2 separate regions of the Homo sapiens genome follow, and region 1 is linked to region 2. Evidence: fine-mapped expression QTL. A gene starts in region 2. The other region holds a variant in brackets. All regions are shown on one strand. Distances are from middle to middle. Region 1 overlaps SMOC2 (SPARC related modular calcium binding 2). Region 2 holds the start of SMOC2 (SPARC related modular calcium binding 2).

Region 1 (8,968 bases), 170 kb after region 2:
TCTGTTTAAATGTCCACCTCCTCTACTGGATGAGGCTGGTGGTCTGCGTGGCAGGGGTCTCCTCCTTGCCCTACACCCAGGACAAGGATAAAACCCAGGCAAAGCAGGCCTTGGTCAAGGGCTGCTGAATGGCATGCATATGGCAGTGTTTATGAGCTGTTTACCGGATTTGAATCTGACACCCTTAGGGACAGGCACCCTGGTTCCCACTGCCAATTCAGTAGTACCACAGAGCCACTTGCTCCCATGAGCTCTGCAACCGCAGCAGCCAGGGCACCTGCCCTCTTGGATGTCAGCCCTGTCTGTTCAGGACTTAACCTGCAGTTTGTCATTGATGCTAAGTGGGACCAGAGAGTCGTTTTTTTTTTTTTAACACTGAGGCAGACTTTCGTAGCTTCACGAGGTGGATTGGAAATGAGTTGGCCTTTGGTGCTACAGGAATCTAAATCCTGAAGTCCTTTGCATCCTTTCCTTGGGCGGGGTGGGGGTAGTGGTCACACCCTCTGTCCTCGTGCACACACTCCTGCTCTGACGAAACAACCCAAGTGCTTCCTCCATCCAACCCTGCAACGGGAGGAGGGGGAGGTGTGGGCGCTGCTCCATCCAACCCTGCAACGGGAGGAGGGGGAGGTGTGGGTGCTTGGCAGCTGCTAGATGAGATTCATTTCAGAGACGGGATGGAGAGACGGCCCTGCTGTGTGATTGAAGTCACAGTGTGCTTCTTCCTACTGACTGCAAGCAATAGCTTTCTATGCCAAATATCCACAAAGGTGACAGAAAGGAGTGAGGAGGTCATGGGTGTCATAGCATCAGAGCCACAGGTCACGGTGTATGCTAGGGTAGGACACTCCAGAAATGGAAGACAAACCACAGCTGGTCTCAAGCCCGTTGTTTTCTCTCTCCTTCCCCCGCCTTCCCCCCGCCCATAGGTACGAGCAGCCGAAATGTGACAACACGGCCAGGGCCCACCCAGCCAAAGCCCGGGACCTGTACAAGGGCCGCCAGCTACAAGGTGAGCAGCACCCGCGAGTGTGGCCCGAATCCACAGGCCCCACCATGCAGTTTCTTGCAAATTTGGAATGAAAAAGACTTTATCTGACTCTGTTTCCCAGGGGGCCTGTCTGACTCTGAGGCCTCCTACCTCCTTGCAGAGGGCCCTGAGTCCAGGCAGGGAGACAGGGGGCCAGGAGCCCACACGGGGAGCACCTGGGGGGCTTCCTCCCTGCTGCTGTGTATGGAAGGTCAGACATGGAAGAGAAAGAAAGGGCCCCTCACAAATCAGATCAGCACACAGCACCCTAACCTCTCTAGATGCTCCTGAACCCCACAGCCCAAAGAACCCTTTATTCATTCTACCTACATTTCACTGTCACTTTCTGACATTCCTTTTTCACTGAATCAACAGTTCATGAAGCTAAAGTTTAGGTTTTAAGAAAACATGAGTTGAATGTATGTATTGAGTTTAATTACAAAGAAATATTGTAATTAAACAGAGGTGAATTAAAATTTATAATAATTGAAAAATGCAGTCACAAAAAGACGTCATGGGGTGAATTTGATATATCATTAAGAAGCTTCAAAGCTACTTGCCATTTGTTTCATTTTGATCTTTTTTTCTCTAAATATCTCCAGATTGTGTATGTTTAACCAACATCTCAGAGACATGAAAATCACACTACAGCGTACTTTGTTTAGAGTACGTGCTTGATCTTGTCTCATACAGAAACTGGATGAATTCCGGATGAGTAAACTTTTGTGCTTCCTGTACTATTTGTACTGTCATTGGTAGAAAGGTTTTAAATTGTAAAAAGTAAAGATGTTCGGCTTATAAATGAGGACAGGGTAGAGCAGAATGTCCACAGTCTATACATGTTTCATTGCTACGTGTTCATAGCGATTCCACAACATGAGTAACGAGAATGGTTGACACAGGGAAGCAGAGGGCGGAATGTGGTTCCGGGGACACACAGCACAGTTATTCTGCCAGCTCTTGGTAAACACCGTGCAGCTCACTGGGCTGGCTTGTTAGGAACTGTCTTTGTCTTAGTTCTTCATGGTTTCCCAGCCGTGTACCTCCTCAGTGTCTTCCTTGTGAGGCAGGTTTGAGGAATCTGTTGGTTCTAGTAATTTTTTTTTAATGAGAGTATGGTCCTTGTGTGAGCAATCAACTTGCTTTCTGTTGAATGAATCAGCTTCTTTCTGGATCTCGCAGGTGAGGGTGGGGGAAGAGATCACGATGGTGCAAACACACCCGTCCCTGTGCATGCCTAGTGAAGGGTGTTTTGCCTTTGACCCCGTGTCTGCAGGCTGTGCTCAGCTGCTGGCTGAATTCCATCCCCCTGATGGCCCTGTCAGGAGGGAGTTCTCCTCCTCCATTATCTGGTGTCATCTCTTGTCTCTGAAGTCCGATTTTAATATTGGTGGGCAAGATGTTTCCTTAAAAGACATAATGAGCTTCTCACATGCTTGCTGCATGGAAAGCCCTCAATAAATGTTTCCTGGTTTTGGTTGGTCTTGACCTTGTCACGTGCACTTCAATCTGTCTTTTGCCCCTAGTGTACTTCTTGAAGAGTCCAAGATTCTTAACTTATTTTTTTTTTCGATAGCACAAAGTTGCATCACTTCTAAGCCAAGCTGCACTGTGGTCTTCACACAGGTGATACGAGTGCAATTTATGGAAGTCAGTTTCGCTTCTCATTGGTAAAAGGGACCGTGACAGAGGCTGGCTTCTGCTGCCTCTCAGGAGTGCACGTGGCAGGAAGACCTTTTCCTGGTGGAATCTAATCTGTTACACTCTAGACCCAGACTATTGATTTAAAGATGACACAGTCATTTGTCCAGTGAGAACAACTGGTCCTTGATATTGAGAAACATGATGTCATTGTCTTCTCTGAGTGTCAGAGGTGCCATTTGGAGATACAGCATCCCACACTGTGAGGATGGGCACGTCAGAAACCATGCTCCTCTCTGCTAAAACAGGAGGAGAAGGATGGTTAGATGCTCACAATGAAGACGGCGTTTCCTTGCCCACACCTCAGACGAAAACCAGATTGCTGAGGCATCAAAGCCACGTGACGCAAACTGTGCAAAGGTCAGCTTGTGCTGTTGCCATAGATGTTTGGGAGTGCACTGTTCATGACCACTTAATTATTTTGATTATTTGGAGATAATTATCCTTATTAGGAAAAAACAAGTAGGTCTTAAAATAGCTGCAGGATAGAGGCTGTTCCTGGTAGAGAGGAGAAACCTATTTCCAAAATAACACAGCAGCCTTTGAGTAGGAAGATCCTTCAGGTCCCATGCAGGCTGATGTATTTTATTCTTAAAAGGTACCGTTTCCTTTTGAAGTTGCTTTTCTAAGGTTTTGCCAATGTAGGTCCTCTATTTTCCATGTAAAGCTGATAATATTTTCACACAAAATTCACTTGTTTGGGGTGAGCAGTTGATTTGTCACCAAATACTTATTCACATCTTATGTAGGACAGTTAGCAGGTGTTTGGCAGCAAACGATCATTGAGTCTTTGGAGGCCATCATTTTATTATATGGCACAAGAGATCTAGGTCTGGCTTAAGGGGCTACATAGTGACGACTGGGTCACCGTTTTGGCTTTTGAAGGTTCTTCTTTCATTGTGTAGGTTTCCTCCTGGGACTATCACATCCTGTGTAGCAGAAATTCTAAAAAGAGGCACAAAACCACACCTTCTTAAACCACACCTTCCTAAACCAGATCTTCTTAAACCAGCCCTTCCTAAACCACACCTTCTTCTTGGACAGGTTCACCTCACTTTATTTTGCCCTGGCATCTCTGATCACACTCTGGTTGGTGTTTTAAATAACAGGGTTACTCTGTCTCTCCAGCCTCCCCAGCCCCCTGACATCCTCCCAGGTCCTCATGTGAGGCTGGAGAACCAGGCACTTGCATTGAGCTGTGGCTCCTGTGTCGGGGCCGTGGTGTGTCTGTTGGGCCCTATGTGGCTCCCGTGTCGGGCCTGGCTGTGGCTCCCATGTCTGGCCCTGCTCTGGTTCCCATGTCCGGGACCCACCGTGGCTCCCGTGTCGGGCCTGGCTGTGGCTCCCATGTCTGGCCCTGCTCTGGTTCCCATGTCCGGGACCCACCGTGGCTCCCGTGTCGGGCCTGGCCGTGGCTCCCATGTCTGGCCCTGCTCTGGTTCTCATGTCCGGGACCCACCGTGGCTCCCGTGTCGGGCCTGGCCGTGGCTCCCATGTCTGGCCCTGCACTGGTTCTCATGTCCGGGACCCACCGTGGCTCCCGTGTCGGGCCTGGCCGTGGCTCCCATGTCTGGCCCTGCTCTGGTTCCCATGTCCGGGACCCACTGTGGCTCCCGTGTCGGGCCTGGCCGTGGCTCCCATGTCTGGCCCTGCTCTGGTTCCCATGTCCGGGACCCACCGTGGCTCCCGTGTCGGGCCTGGCTGTGGCTCCCATGTCTGGCCCTGCTCTGGTTCCCATGTCCGGGACCCACCGTGGCTCCCGTGTCGGGCCTGGCTGTGGCTCCCATGTCAGGCCCTGATGTGGCTCCCGTGTCTGAGCCTTGCTGGAATTCTTCCCTCTGCTTGAGCTGCATCTCTCTTAGCTCCTGTGCCTCCCACACATCCTTCAGGACGGCTTCCTCAGGATGCCCAGGCGGCCGGCCACTCACATGCACCTGTCCAGCTTGTTCCCACCTGGTGGGGCACAGCGTGTGGTGTGGGTGTGGACTCTGCCCCGTGCCTCACAGGGTCCCTGGGGAGGTGGAGACTGCACCTCCATGTTCCCGGCATCCGCGAGGTGGAACGAAGGATGTAGGCAGTTTTCTTTTCCTACTAGAAGACTTTTTGGCTAAGTGATACTGGTAAGCTTTGACTTACTAGCCATGTGGTTTTGCTTATCTAGGGCCCCGCAGCACTGGTCTTGAATGGGCTTTCCAGTGTGGGGAGAGGGTGACCCCAGCCTTTACCTGAAGAGCAGTGCTGGGTTCGTGATCTCCATCGGGGAGAGGGTGACTGCAGCCTTTACTCAAACAGCAGCGCTGGGTTCGTGATCTCCATCAGGGGAGAGGGTGACCCCAGCCTTTACTCAAACAGCAGCGCTGGGTTCGTGATCTCCATCAGGGGAGAGGGTGACCCCAACCTTTACTCAAACAGCAGCACTGGGTTCGTGATCTCCATCAGGGGAGAGGGTGACCCCAGCCTTTACCTGAAGAGCAGTGCTGGGTTCGTGATCTCCATCGGGGAGAGGGTGACCGCAGCCTTTACTCAAACAGCAGTGCTGGGTTCATGATCTCCATCGGGGAGAGGGTGACCCCAGCCTTTACTCAAACAGCAGC[G/A]CTGGGTTCGTGATCTCCATCAGGGGAGAGGGTGACCCCAGCCTTTACTCAAACAGCAGCACTGGGTTCGTGATCTCCATCAGTCCTCAGGGCCCCTTCTGCTGAGTGAGAGGGGAAAAAGCCAGAACAGTCCCTTGCTTGCCTCAGCTGCGGCACCGGCTCCATTTGTGATTCAGGCTCGTAGGCCCTCGGCGCGGCAATGCAAGAGGCCATCGGCACAACCTTGTCAGAGAGGAGATGCAGGCGAAAGACAGAGGTGCAGGGAGATGCACCTGTCCAGAGCAGAGCAGGCCCAGTCGCCGGCAGGTTCAGGGCAGGAGCATCGGCCAAGGAGAGTTGGCTCGAAAACTTACAATGGAGACTTTGATCTAAAGTGAAGTCAAAATAAGTGATTTCATGGCCTAGAGTGCAGGGTTTCCTCTCACCTTTCCTGATCATGCAATTGTGTCTTTCACTCTCGGATACGGTTTTCCGGCTGACTCTCATTCTCAGGACCAATCGTATTCGAATGAGCAGACTGGCTTTCCTCTGGGCGTTGCTTCATTTCAGTCTACACTGGCAGGGAACGCTCACATTTTCGTCATTGTGACGATCTGCGCTGCGTGCAGTCTGATCTCACTCTCAGGCACTGTGGTCCAGGCCACCCCAAAGGCAGCACAGGAGCTGGGCCCTGGGGGTCAGGAAGGTGCAGGGGAAGTCTGACGTATCCTGTGAGCCATTCCTTCCTCCACCAGCTCAGGTGAAAACAGCACTGTCTTTCTGTGGGTGTCCTGATGTTGGTGGTTCAGCAGTGGCACCAGTGTGAGGACAGAGGGGGCGGCATGAGGAGCCCCTTGGGGAGCCTGGGCATGGCCCCTCTGTTACTGCCCTGTACCCCAAGCCAGGGTCCTCTCCTGGATCCCCAGAGCTCTTCCGCCTGGCACACAGTCTAAGAAATGGTCTTTATTTTGGTCAAACAGCCTCTCACCCAAGTGTTTCTGGAAGCTCTATGGACCCAGCAGACTTCATGAATGGTCAAGGCCTCTCCCTAAAGGGCATGGCACAGTGCCTCTTCACATCTACAGCCAGCACAGGGGGCCTCTTCACACCTACAGCCAGCACATGGAGCCTCTTCACACCTACAGCCAGCACAGGGCCTCTTCACACCTACAGCCAGCACAGGGCCTCTTCACACCTACAGCCAGCACAGGGGGCCTCTTCACACCTACAGCCAGCACAGGGCCTCTTCACACCTACAGCCAGCACAGGGCCTCTTCTCCTAGAGCCAGCACAGGACCTCTTCACACCTACAGCCAGCACAGGGGGCCTCTTCACACCTACAGCCAGCACAGGACCTCTTCACACCTACAGCCAGCACAGGGGGCCTCTTCACACCTACAGCCAGCACAGGGCCTCTTCACACCTACAGCCAGCACAGGGGGCCTCTTCACACCTACAGCCAGCACAGGGCCTCTTCACACCTACAGCCAGCACAGGGGGCCTCTTCACACCTACAGCCAGCAGGGGGCCTCTTCACACCTACAGCCAGCACAGGGCCTCTTCATACCTACAGCCAGCACATGGAGCCTCTTCACACCTACAGCCAGCACAGGGGGCCTCTTCACACCTACAGCCAGCACAGGGGGCCTCTTCACACCTACAGCCAGCACAGAGCCTCTTCACACCTACAGCCAGCACATGGAGCCTCTTCACACCTACAGCCAGCACAGGGCCTCTTTATACCTACAGCCAGCACAGGGCCTCTTCACACCTACAGCCAGCACAGGGCCTCTTCATACCTACAGCCAGCACAGGACCTCTTCATACCTACAGCCAGCACAGGGCCTCTTCATACCTACAGCCAGCACAGGGCCTCTTTATACCTACAGCCAGCACAGGGCCTCTTCACACCTACAGCCAGCACATGGAGCCTCTTCACACCTACAGCCAGCACAGGGCCTCTTCACACCTACAGCCAGCACAGGGCCTCTTCACACCTACAGCCAGCACAGGGCCTCTTCATACCTACAGCCAGCACAGGGGGCCTCTTCACACCTACAGCCAGCACAGGGGGCCTCTTCACACCTACAGCCAGCACAGGGCCTCTTCACACCTACAGCCAGCACAGGGCCTCTTCACACCTACAGCCAGCACAGGGCCTCTTCACACCTACAGCCAGCACATGGAGCCTCTTCACACCTACAGCCAGCACAGGGCCTCTTCACACCTACAGCCAGCACAGGGCCTCTTCACACCTACAGCCAGCACAGGGCCTCTTCATACCTACAGCCAGCACAGGGCCTCTTCACACCTACAGCCAGCACAGGGCCTCTTCACACCTACAGCCAGCACAGGGGACCTCTTCACACCTACAGCCAGCACAGGGGGCCTCTTCACACCTACAGCCAGCACAGTACCTCTTCACACCTACAGCCAGCACAGGGCCTCTTCACACCTACAGCCAGCACAGGGCCTCTTCATACCTACAGCCAGCACAGGGCCTCTTCACATCTACAGCCAGCACAGGGCCTCTTCATACTTACAGCCGGCACAGGGCCTCTTCACACCTACAGCCAGCACAGGGGGCCTCTTTACATCTACAGCCAGCACAGGGGGCCTCTTCACACCTACAGCCAGCACAGGGCCTCTTCACACCTACAGCCAGCACAGGGCCTCTTTATACCTACAGCCAGCACGGGGCCTCTTCACACCTACAGCCAGCACGGGGCCTTTTCACACCTACAGCCAGCATGGGGCCTCTTCACACCTACAGCCAGCACGGGGCCTCTTCACACCTACAGCCAGCACAGGGCCTCTTCACACCTACAGCCAGCACAGGGGGCCTCTTCACACCTACAGCCAGCACAGGGCCTCTTCACACCTACAGCCAGCACAGGGGGCCTCTTCACACCTACAGCCAGCACAGGGCCTCTTCACACCTACAGCCAGCACACGGCCTCTTCACACCTACAGCCAGCACAGGGTCTCTTCATCTTCATACTTACAGCCGGCACAGGGCCTCTTTACATCTACAGCCAGCACAGGGCCTCTTCATACCTACAGCCAGCACAGGGGGCCTCTTCACACCTACAGCCAGCACAGGGCCTCTTCATACCTACAGCCAGCACAGGGGGCCTCTTCACACCTACAGCCAGCACAGGGCCTCTTCACACCTACAGCCAGCACAGGGGGCCTCTTCATACCTACAGCCAGCACAGGGTCTCTTCACATCTACAGCCAGGAGCATCTTTTTTCTTGGGGCCCCAAGCAATTGCTGGCATAATTATCGTCTTTGACTCATGTAGAAACCTTAGAGGCAACACCTGGATTTTTCAGACACGATTTTAGCACTATTCTAATTTTTTGAAGATTAGTTATGGTTTTCTGAGAGAGCATAAAATGAACCTTACCTTGCCCTAAGTGGAGCTTAGGACATTTTCCAAAAGGTAGTTAGATCAGGAGCAACACATTCCTGCCAGGTATCATGTGACATGTAAGGACCTCGGTGTTTACCTTTTCTACAAAGCAGACAGGAGCCGGCCAGGACCTCGCTTGGTGGCCTTTGAGAGCCTCACAAAGGTGACACGAGGTGTCAATATTCTGCCCACTAAAAATGTCTACTTCTGTGATCCCTGCTGTCATATCAAAGACTGAATTTACAGAC
Region 2 (8,968 bases):
ATGTGTAGAGGATTAACACTCGACCCCTACCTTTCACCATATACAAAAATTATCTCAAGATGGATTAAATATTAAATGAAAGACCTCAAACTATAAAAATCCTAGGAGAAAATGTAGGAAACACCATTCTGGATATCAGTCTTGGCATAGAATGTGTTACTAAGTCCTCAAAAGCAATTGCAACAAAAAAATTGGCAAGTGGGACCTAATTAAACTAAAGAGCTTCTGCACGCAAAAGAAACGATCAGCAGAGTGGACAGACAACCCATAGAATGGGAGAAAATATTTGCAAACTATGCATGGGACAAAGGTCTAATATCCAGAGTCTGAAGGCACTGAAACAACGCAATAAGCAAAAGAACAACCCCAGTAAAAAGTGGGCAAAGGACATGAACAGACACTTCTCAAAAGAAGACATGCGAGAAGCCAACAAACATATTAAAAAATGCTCAGCATCATTGATCATCAGAGAAATGCAAATCAAAACCACAATGAGATACCATCTCCCACCAGTCAGAATGGCTATTATTAAAAAGTCAAAAAGCAACAGATCCTGCTGAGGCAGCAGAGAAAATGGAATGTTTATACACTGTAGGTGGGAATGTAAATTATTTCAGCCACTGTGGGAAGAAGTTTGGGGATTTCTCAAAGAACTAAAAATAGAACTCCCATTCGATCCAGCAATCCCATTACTGGGTATGTATCCAAAGGAAAATAAACCATCTACAAAAAAGACACAAGCCCTTGTATGTTAATTGCATCACCGGTCACAATTGCAAAGACATGGAATTAACCTAGGTGCCCATCAGTAGTGGACTGGACAAGGAAAATGTAGTACATAGACACCACGGAATACTATGTAGCCACAAAAGAACGGAAGCATGTCCTTTGCAGCAACATAGATGCAACTGGAGGCCATGATCCTAAGTGAATTAATGCAGGAACAGACATGCAAATACTGGATGTTCTCACTCATAAGCGGGAGCTAGACACTGGGTACACATTGAGATAAAGAAGAAATGAGACACTGGGTACACACAGAGATAAAGAAGGAACAGTAGACACCAGGGCCTGCTAGAAAGGTGGGGCAGGGAACAAGGGCTGATAAAACTGCTTATTGGGTGCTATGCTCACTCTCTGCGTCTTTCATACCCCAAACCTCAGAGTCACACAATATGTCCATGTCACAAACCTGCACGTGTGCCCCCGAGTCTAAAATAAAAGCTGAAATTATTTTTTAAAAATTTGCCACAAAGTGCCTGAAAAGTATTATCATAAAAATTGTCCTCAGGCATCTTAAGAAGGAAGAAGAGGCCGGGCGCGGTGGCTCACGCCTGTAATCTCAGCACTTTGGGAGGCCGAGGTGGGCGGATCACGAGGTCAGGAGATGGAGACCATCCTGGCTAACACAGTGAAACCCCGTCTCTACTAAAAATACAAAAAATTAGCTGGGCGTGGTGGTGGGCGCCTGTAGTCCCAGCTACTCGGGAGGCTGAGGCAGGAGAATGGTGTGAACCCGGGAGGGAGAGCTTGCAGTGAGCCGAGATTGCACCACTGCACTCCAGCCTGGGCAACAGAGCAAGACTCCATCTCAAAAAAAAAAAAAAAAAAGAAGAAACTTGTTTAATTATTTTGTTGAGCACAAAGTCCAAATTCTCTGTTACTTAAATATATCAAAATAGGAAGAAAGCCATTGAGTCAGGCCCAAGGATCAAACACACAACTCCACTGTCCACTTTTCAACGTGGTGTGTCAACGCTGGCCTCATCCTGCAGCCGCGGTGACGGTGAGCCTCGGCGGTGCTCTGTTCTGATTTTGTCAACTCTGCCGATGTGGTTTCCTTTCTATATGGCTCACAGGTTTGTGAAGCTGCAGAACTTGGGCTAAAAACCTGGGATTGATGTGGGGATCCTGCATCATTTTTCCGTAGGTTGAAGGGAACAAGTTAAAAGGAAGATGCAAGTCATCAGAATGAACAAGCCAACAAGAGGACAGAGACTCCAGAAACCTGGGGAACTACAGATTCTCGGGTCCAGCCTGGGGGTAGTCTAAAAGGAAAATCACACAGAACTTACCTAAGAAAGTCCAGGTGAACGGTGAAAACTCCTGCTCCCATGATTAAGTAGAAACTAGGAGAAAACATTAATAAGTGACTGGCAGGTGACTGATGATGTGGGGTGATTCTCAGAGTATGAACAGTGACCTGAGTTCAGTCCCAGATGATACTCAGAGTGATGGCAGAGGGGATTTCTGGAAGTCACTGCATCAACAAAGAGATATTTGACTAAACTTATGCTTGGCATATTGAGATGGGAAAATAGCTGACAAAAAGTTTTCTGGCTAAACATGAATTAGCCAGAAATAATAACTAAATTATATCATTTCTATAATGAAAATAAAATCCTTTTGCAGTTTTAGCATAGTAAAATAAATAAAAAGGAAGCCAATACTCATGATAAAGCATTTTGCTAATGGCCTAAGAGGGAAAGTTAGTTTAGAAATGTGAAAACAGCTGGAGTCTTTGGTAATTAGTTTCTCTTGCTGTTCTTTATTGTAACTTTCATCAGTGACAGGCATTTAAATTCTGAATGCATAAGCCACATTTTAGAATGGGCCCTGCATCACTTTTTAATTAAAAAAAAAAACAAAAAAACCTACATTTCCAAGAGAGGGGAACTTCTTCCTGCATCCTAGAGGAACTCTCTGGAAAGTATAGAGCTGATCACTTCCTGTCTTAACTTTGAACTGAGTGAATTACTTTTCTATCCTTTCTAACATGACAGCTCTCTGGCATTCCTGCCAGTAATAACTTTCTTGGAGACTTACAAATAAAAGACAGACATAACTCTTTCCCAGTGTTTTAAATAAATGTATTGTTTTTCTCCATAAAAATGGAACCTGATTATCTCTCCAAACTCCATTTCTAGAATTTTGAGAAACTAAAATTTGGCATTCAGGACACATGAGCTCCTCCAGATTTGAAAGGGGTTTCAAAGGCTCCAAACCTGCCTCATCTGTCAGAGTTTTGGACAAATGCATTTCATTTATCTTCCTAGAGTTCCCAGAGGATTCTGGAGTTGCTACATGAAAGACGTGTTGGGATTCTTGAATACAAGGCACGGAGGGCCAAGGATTTTCTTCTGTTCTCCATATTGCCAGAGGAAGTGACATGGATTTGCCAGTATTGCAGGTTTTAACATCTGCATTCTGTTTATGATTTTGTTGCTTAGGAGATCTGGCTAAGACATTTGGCCCCTTTGACTTTTGTTCCTCATCTGTAGAATGGGAATAATTAAGTCTGCTTCTTGTCTGCCATTCTTGCAGCGGACGATGGTGGATAAATGAACATGCTTTCAAACTTTTGAGTTCTGACGAGCAGTACTCTCAACAAAGTGGAAAGTGAAAAACAGGTTCTTTAGTAGCAAATACTTCTTAAAGGAAGTATGTCAGCTTCGAGTGTAAATTTTATTCTTTGGATAATCTTAGAATTAGTGGTATGTAGTGTTTATTTTCTTTTTACTTTAATTTTCACTGCAGTTCCCTAACAGTGATTCCTATTTACTTAATCATTTGCAGCTGCTCTGCTCACCTGTTTTTCTGGACCCAGGAGCAGTCCCTCAAGAGTTTTATTATAATTTCCTTCTAAGTCCTTAAACCAGGAGGAATGTGTTTAAGTGCTTAATAGATTCCCTGGGCTTTGGAATTTTAAGGAGAATTCTGAGAGTAGCCCTCCTTCAGGAAAAGGTGCATTTCTTTCCCGTCTTTCCGTGGCCCGACGGACATCACTTTCCTGATAAAATTGTGTGGGAAAGGTTGCAATAGCATTGCCTTTGCCTCAGCAGCCAGTCCCAGAACTTGCTGATACAGCCCCCTCCCCCAAAGTTCATAGCCAAAGCAGTGGGCTAGACATCGGATGAAACCTCAGATTTGGATTTTCTGTGTTTTGTGCTTTTCCCAATGCCCCTGACAAGTCAATTGATTCATTGTTCTTGAACAAATCTTCACTCTTCTGGCTTTCTGTGTGAGACAGAATTAGGGCTTTTTCCTGTAAAGTTATAAGCCAAGGCTAAACTATGTCAGCAATGTTGTCTGCAGTGGATATTATCCAGAGTCTGGGTGTGCAAAAATTTCCTGGTTTCCAACGTAGTCTTCGTGGGTGAGTTTACAACCTCCACAAGCCCTGTGCTCCCCGCACAAACACCTGAAATGCTTTGACAGAGCTGTTTAAAAACAGCCACATGTGTCTGTGAATGATGCCCAACCACATGCTCCCCCGACTTGAGAGGATCAAGGCTACAGCCCAGGTCAGACCCCGGATCTTTAGGACCTAAATTCCCCCATCCCTGCAGTGGATAACCCCGTGTAAAGATGCCAAAGGCGGGCTGCCCCCGGCGCAGCCTTTCCTGGACATGTGTTCCCAGCTGCCTTTGCTGGAGCGCCGCTGATCCTTCAGCACCTCTGAGAGGCAATGTTCTGGGCTGGACCAGGGGGCCTTAGAGGGCAGAGGTCAAGGAGAACCCCGGAGTCTGGGGACCGGCCAAGGCTTGGCGTTAACCTTTGTGGATGAAAAGTCCCGCTGGGCTGATCCTGCGCGGACCGGGCCTGGACCCTGGGGCGTGAGGAGGGCGCGGTGCGTCCCGTGGTTGTGCTTGGAAGCCCCCCGAGGGTGCGCGCGCGTGGGTATGAGTGCGTGCGTGTGCCTGGGTGTGCGTGTGTGTAAGTGTGCACGTGTGTGTGTGAGAGTGCGCGCGGGGAAGGAGGCACAGAGACAGCCCGGACAGGCCACTGCGCAGCCCTGGTGGCCCCCGCTCCACCTCTCGCTCCGCAGACCCGCGCCAGGGAGGCCTCTGGGCCGCAGCGGGCACCGGAGCGGAGCGGGCGCGGCAGCGGGCGCTGGGAGGTGGGGCTGGGGGAGGAGAGGGGGAGGGAGAGAGGCGGGCGGGAGGGGAGGATCCGGGAAGCTCCGGGGTATTTGACAGGAGCGAGGGCGGACGCAAAGAACGCGGAGGACCTCTGGGTGCCTGCAGGGGAGCTGCTCCAGCCGGGCCGCCGGGAGCGGTGGGGAGAGCATCGCGGAGCCGCCCCTCCACGCGCCCGCCCAGCCGCGCTCGCCCACTGGGCTCTCCCGGCTGCAGTGCCAGGGCGCAGGACGCGGCCGATCTCCCGCTCCCGCCACCTCCGCCACCATGCTGCTCCCCCAGCTCTGCTGGCTGCCGCTGCTCGCTGGGCTGCTCCCGCCGGTGCCCGCTCAGAAGTTCTCGGCGCTCACGGTAAGCCCGGGCCCGCGGGACCTGGAGCTCAAGTGGTGCCGCCTCTTGCAGCCGGCCGGGTTCGGGTCCCCGCGCCCCGCTCCAGGCCCAGGCGCCTGGGCACGGGGAGCAGGTGGCCCCGGGGGCCGTGGAGCCTTCGCCTGCCGGCGAGGCTGGAGCAGGTAGGACGCAGCGTGCGCGCCTGGGACCCGGCTGGGATGGGCTTCTGGGGACCCTGCCCGCCGGGGTCCTGCTGCGGCTGCGACGGGCTCCTCGGGTTCCACCCGGCTGGGACCCCACCTGCCTCGGGGGCTCTGACCCGGCTGTGAGAGGATCCTGGGGTCCTGCAGACCCCGGACAAGTGGGAGCTGCGGGTGCGCTCGGGTGTCCCGCACTCACTGCTGGGCCTGAGCCTGTGGGGAACCAGGTCTGGGAGCGCCGGCGCCGCCCCGCGGACTGTCCCAAGGCCAAGACAGACCCGCCGGGACTGGGCGCCCACCTCGCCCACGGGGACCCGGCCTGGAGCGTGTTCTCCCGACCGCTTTGGGCTCGTGCGCCGCGCGGATCCCGGGCCTCTCGCCGGCTGAAGGGGCTGCCAGTCGTGGGCCCCACTCGTGGGTCTGACTCTCCCAGAGACCCTCGTAAGTGAGCCGAGGAAGAAGCAGATGAGGTTACAGATGATTCTTCACGGGCCTGAGTGTTATTAGAGAAGCGCTTTCTTCCCTTCTCAGGACAGAACTGGAGGCAGGCGGCGGCTCCCCGCTCTGCGGGGCCTCTGGGTTCTTCCTCGTGGCAGGGATGCTGCGCTCCTGAGCGCGAGGGTCACCGCGGTTGACCGCTGTGTGTTTTTCTTTCTGAGCTGTAACTTCTATGCGACAGCCTTGGCCCGGCCAACGCACGCGGTGTCAAACGAGGAGCTATGTAGAGGGGGCTGAGCCAAGCCCCCGCCGGCCAAGCCAACCCGCGGCGGCCGCTGGGCCAAGGCCGGGTGTCTGCAGCCCCCAGCTCCAGCCGTCCTCCTGGGCTTGCAGGGTTTGCAAACCCATCATTAATGCAATCGCCAGAAACGAAAACATTCCACTTAAATGTGTTTTTGAACAAGTGTTTGAGAAAACACGAAGGTAGTGAGAACGCCTCTGGTGGACAGCCGTCTTTTTTAAGTGGCCGGGGACTTGTCCTAAAGGTGTTTATTGTATTGAAAATAAAGATGGTTGAAATAAGCTGTGGTCGGTTCTGCCTTTCAGCAAATTTAAAACAGTCATGTGGGCATCTTTTCTTTTTCTTTTTCTTTTTCTTCGTCTTCTTTCTTTTGCGTTTTAGCAGTGTGAAGGATGGTTTGTGAGTTCATTGCTCATACCTCAAATTCTTCTGCAGCAGCCCGGGGTCCCTGCCTTGTGTCTCACAAATGACTTGTAGATTAGAAACTGCTAACTGGGGCTCCAAGGAGGTTTTCACACACTCAGGCTTTCCCTGAAGATCCTTTATCTCCCCAGAGGGGGCCCTCAGAGGATACTCACTGGAGGCATTCATGTATATGCACATCTGTACATGCATCTAGACATAAATATACTCACGTATACACTCACAAAAAGACCCCCCACATACTCTTAAAGCACACTAGAGGAGACAGAGAAACTAAGGCCAATTCTCCAAAGGAGATCATAGCATTTTCTTCCAGGACTGTAGCAGCAGGTACCTACAGTTGCCACGGATTTTCAGATTTTCTGAAAGCGCAAAAAGTAGAGACTGCCATCTGCCTGCTGCCCTGTGTGTGTGGGGGGTGGGGTTGGGCCTGTTGGTCCCCCCTGGAAGAGCAGAATCAAGGTAGTTAGTAATTAGAACAGTTTAAGACTCGGCAGGTTTTCTTGTCTTCTCTCCCCTGTCTCATCTAACTATTTACTTGAACCCTCTCACCTTTTGCCCCCTTGAGGTTGCCCCAAGGATGTCTTGGGTTGCGGTGAGACCCGCTGCATGTGGGGTCTCTGTGCAGGAGCTGATACCCCACGTGGGCTTTGCCCTGTTGGCTGCATTCCCCAAGAACAGTTTGCCTGAAATTTACATTTGCAAATAAAATCAGTATCCCGAAGAAAAGATTAAAGCCATAACACATTTTGGCACACTTCTTCTCACCCCACCCCCAGTCTAGAAAATCAAGAAGTAGTTGAGTTACAAAGTAACTGAGGCAGGCCTGAAATCTGACTGGTCGCTGGGAGATGTGAGATGTGCAGGATTTTTCAGTGTGCTCATCTCTTTTCAAATTGCCTTCTGGTTTTTGGAAATCTCTTTTGTCTCCGGAGGCCCTCATTCAAAGAAGGGCCTTCTCTCCCTACGATTTGCATCCTACCTACTTTAATAAATCAAGAGGCAGTATCAGTCCATGCAGTGGGTGGGACCCACAGCTTAGGGTCTTGCTGGATGTGTGACTTCAGGCAAGTTACTTAATTTCATAATCTTCAGTCCCCTTATCTGTAAAATGAGAATACATAATCTCTTTCAAGCATGTGGTGAGGATTAAAGGTAGGGCTTTTAATGCGCCTACTATATGTGAGTTCTCCAGCTAACATTGTTTTGATGGTGCCCATGCCGTGGGTCCGTATAAGAGAGTGCTATCAATTGATACCGTAATTATCAATGCATATAGCGTTGTGGCATTAAGGTGTGTGTGGATTCAACTTTGCAGTATTTTCACCTGCCGCAGATTCTCAGAGCACACCACTTGGCTCTGGGTGTATCTGTGGACTTTGTGGGAGTAGCCATGTGGGACTCTATAGACCAAGGAGGAAAGCTTGCCTCTCTGCCTCCTTCTACTCCATTCATTTCTTCTCATCTAGAAGCAGGGAAATATGTCAGCCTCTCTGGGGCTTTCAGTTTGCCATACCTGGCTTCTCAGGACCACGCATTTGTCTTACTCACCTATGGTGAGTGTGCTTTCTTGGTGGGTCCAGCATTGCTGGTGTGCTCACCTCTGCTACTTTATGTTTAAGATTCAGAGAATCCACTTTGTCTGGTAATGATCTCTCTTCTTTCCACCAAAGTCATTCTTTAGAAATGGCACCATGAGGCCCTCTGTGTCTCTCATTGTGACTTTCTGATGGCTTTGCACAACTTCCTGGTTATTGCTCAGACCCTCTCACCTCCAGTCAACAATGGCATTCTTAAGTGTGTCCAATGCGCTCTTAATTTGGATGCAGGTCAATTTCTTCCTTGAAGAAGGAGGTACATTGAATGCCACACCGTGCCCATTTTCCTTTTTATTTCTGTGAATGACTGAGATGAGGGAATGATCTCTAGTATAAATGGTTTTTATTACACATAATTCTGTTTTCAAAGAGCAAACAGGCGTGATCACAATTACTCAACTTTATCATGGTTGTCATTATATGAATTTTGATGGACTGATCCATAAGCCCATACCTAGGTGATTTCTTTAAAGGCAGAGAGAAGAACAATATTGCCTGGGACCCCTTTCCCAGAAGTTTTTGGTTAGAGCCAAAGTATTCATTCCCATGTTGACTAAATCATATTTTGCTCACACTTAGAATGTTGAAGTCACATTACCATCCTTCTCAGACTTCTCTTACTGCCAATACCTAACGCTCCCCTAAGGTCATACGCACGACTTCGTTAAAGGTACCGTTGTCTCCACATTCAAGAGATGAGGAAACTGAAGTTTTGAGAGACTCTGAAGGGCACCTGGTCACTAAGCAGATCCGAATATT

Evidence for each region.
Region 1: its variant is fine-mapped to the expression of SMOC2 in esophagus muscle (GTEx, PIP 0.93).

The regions. Positions count from the first base shown.
Region 1 is chr6:168,607,228-168,616,195 of GRCh38, forward strand. SMOC2 (SPARC related modular calcium binding 2) reads left to right here. Exons shown (of 13, transcript NM_001166412.2): 9 at 930-1,012. Among named protein-coding and RNA genes, the nearest start is that of SMOC2, 170 kb to the left of the region's middle. RefSeq lists an enhancer at 5,728-5,897 and a cis regulatory region at 5,813. The variant G/A (reference allele first, on the strand shown) is at 5,326.
Region 2 is chr6:168,436,185-168,445,152 of GRCh38, forward strand. It overlaps SMOC2 (SPARC related modular calcium binding 2), which reads left to right and starts at 5,000. Exons shown (of 13, transcript NM_001166412.2): 1 at 5,000-5,270. The coding sequence starts at 5,187.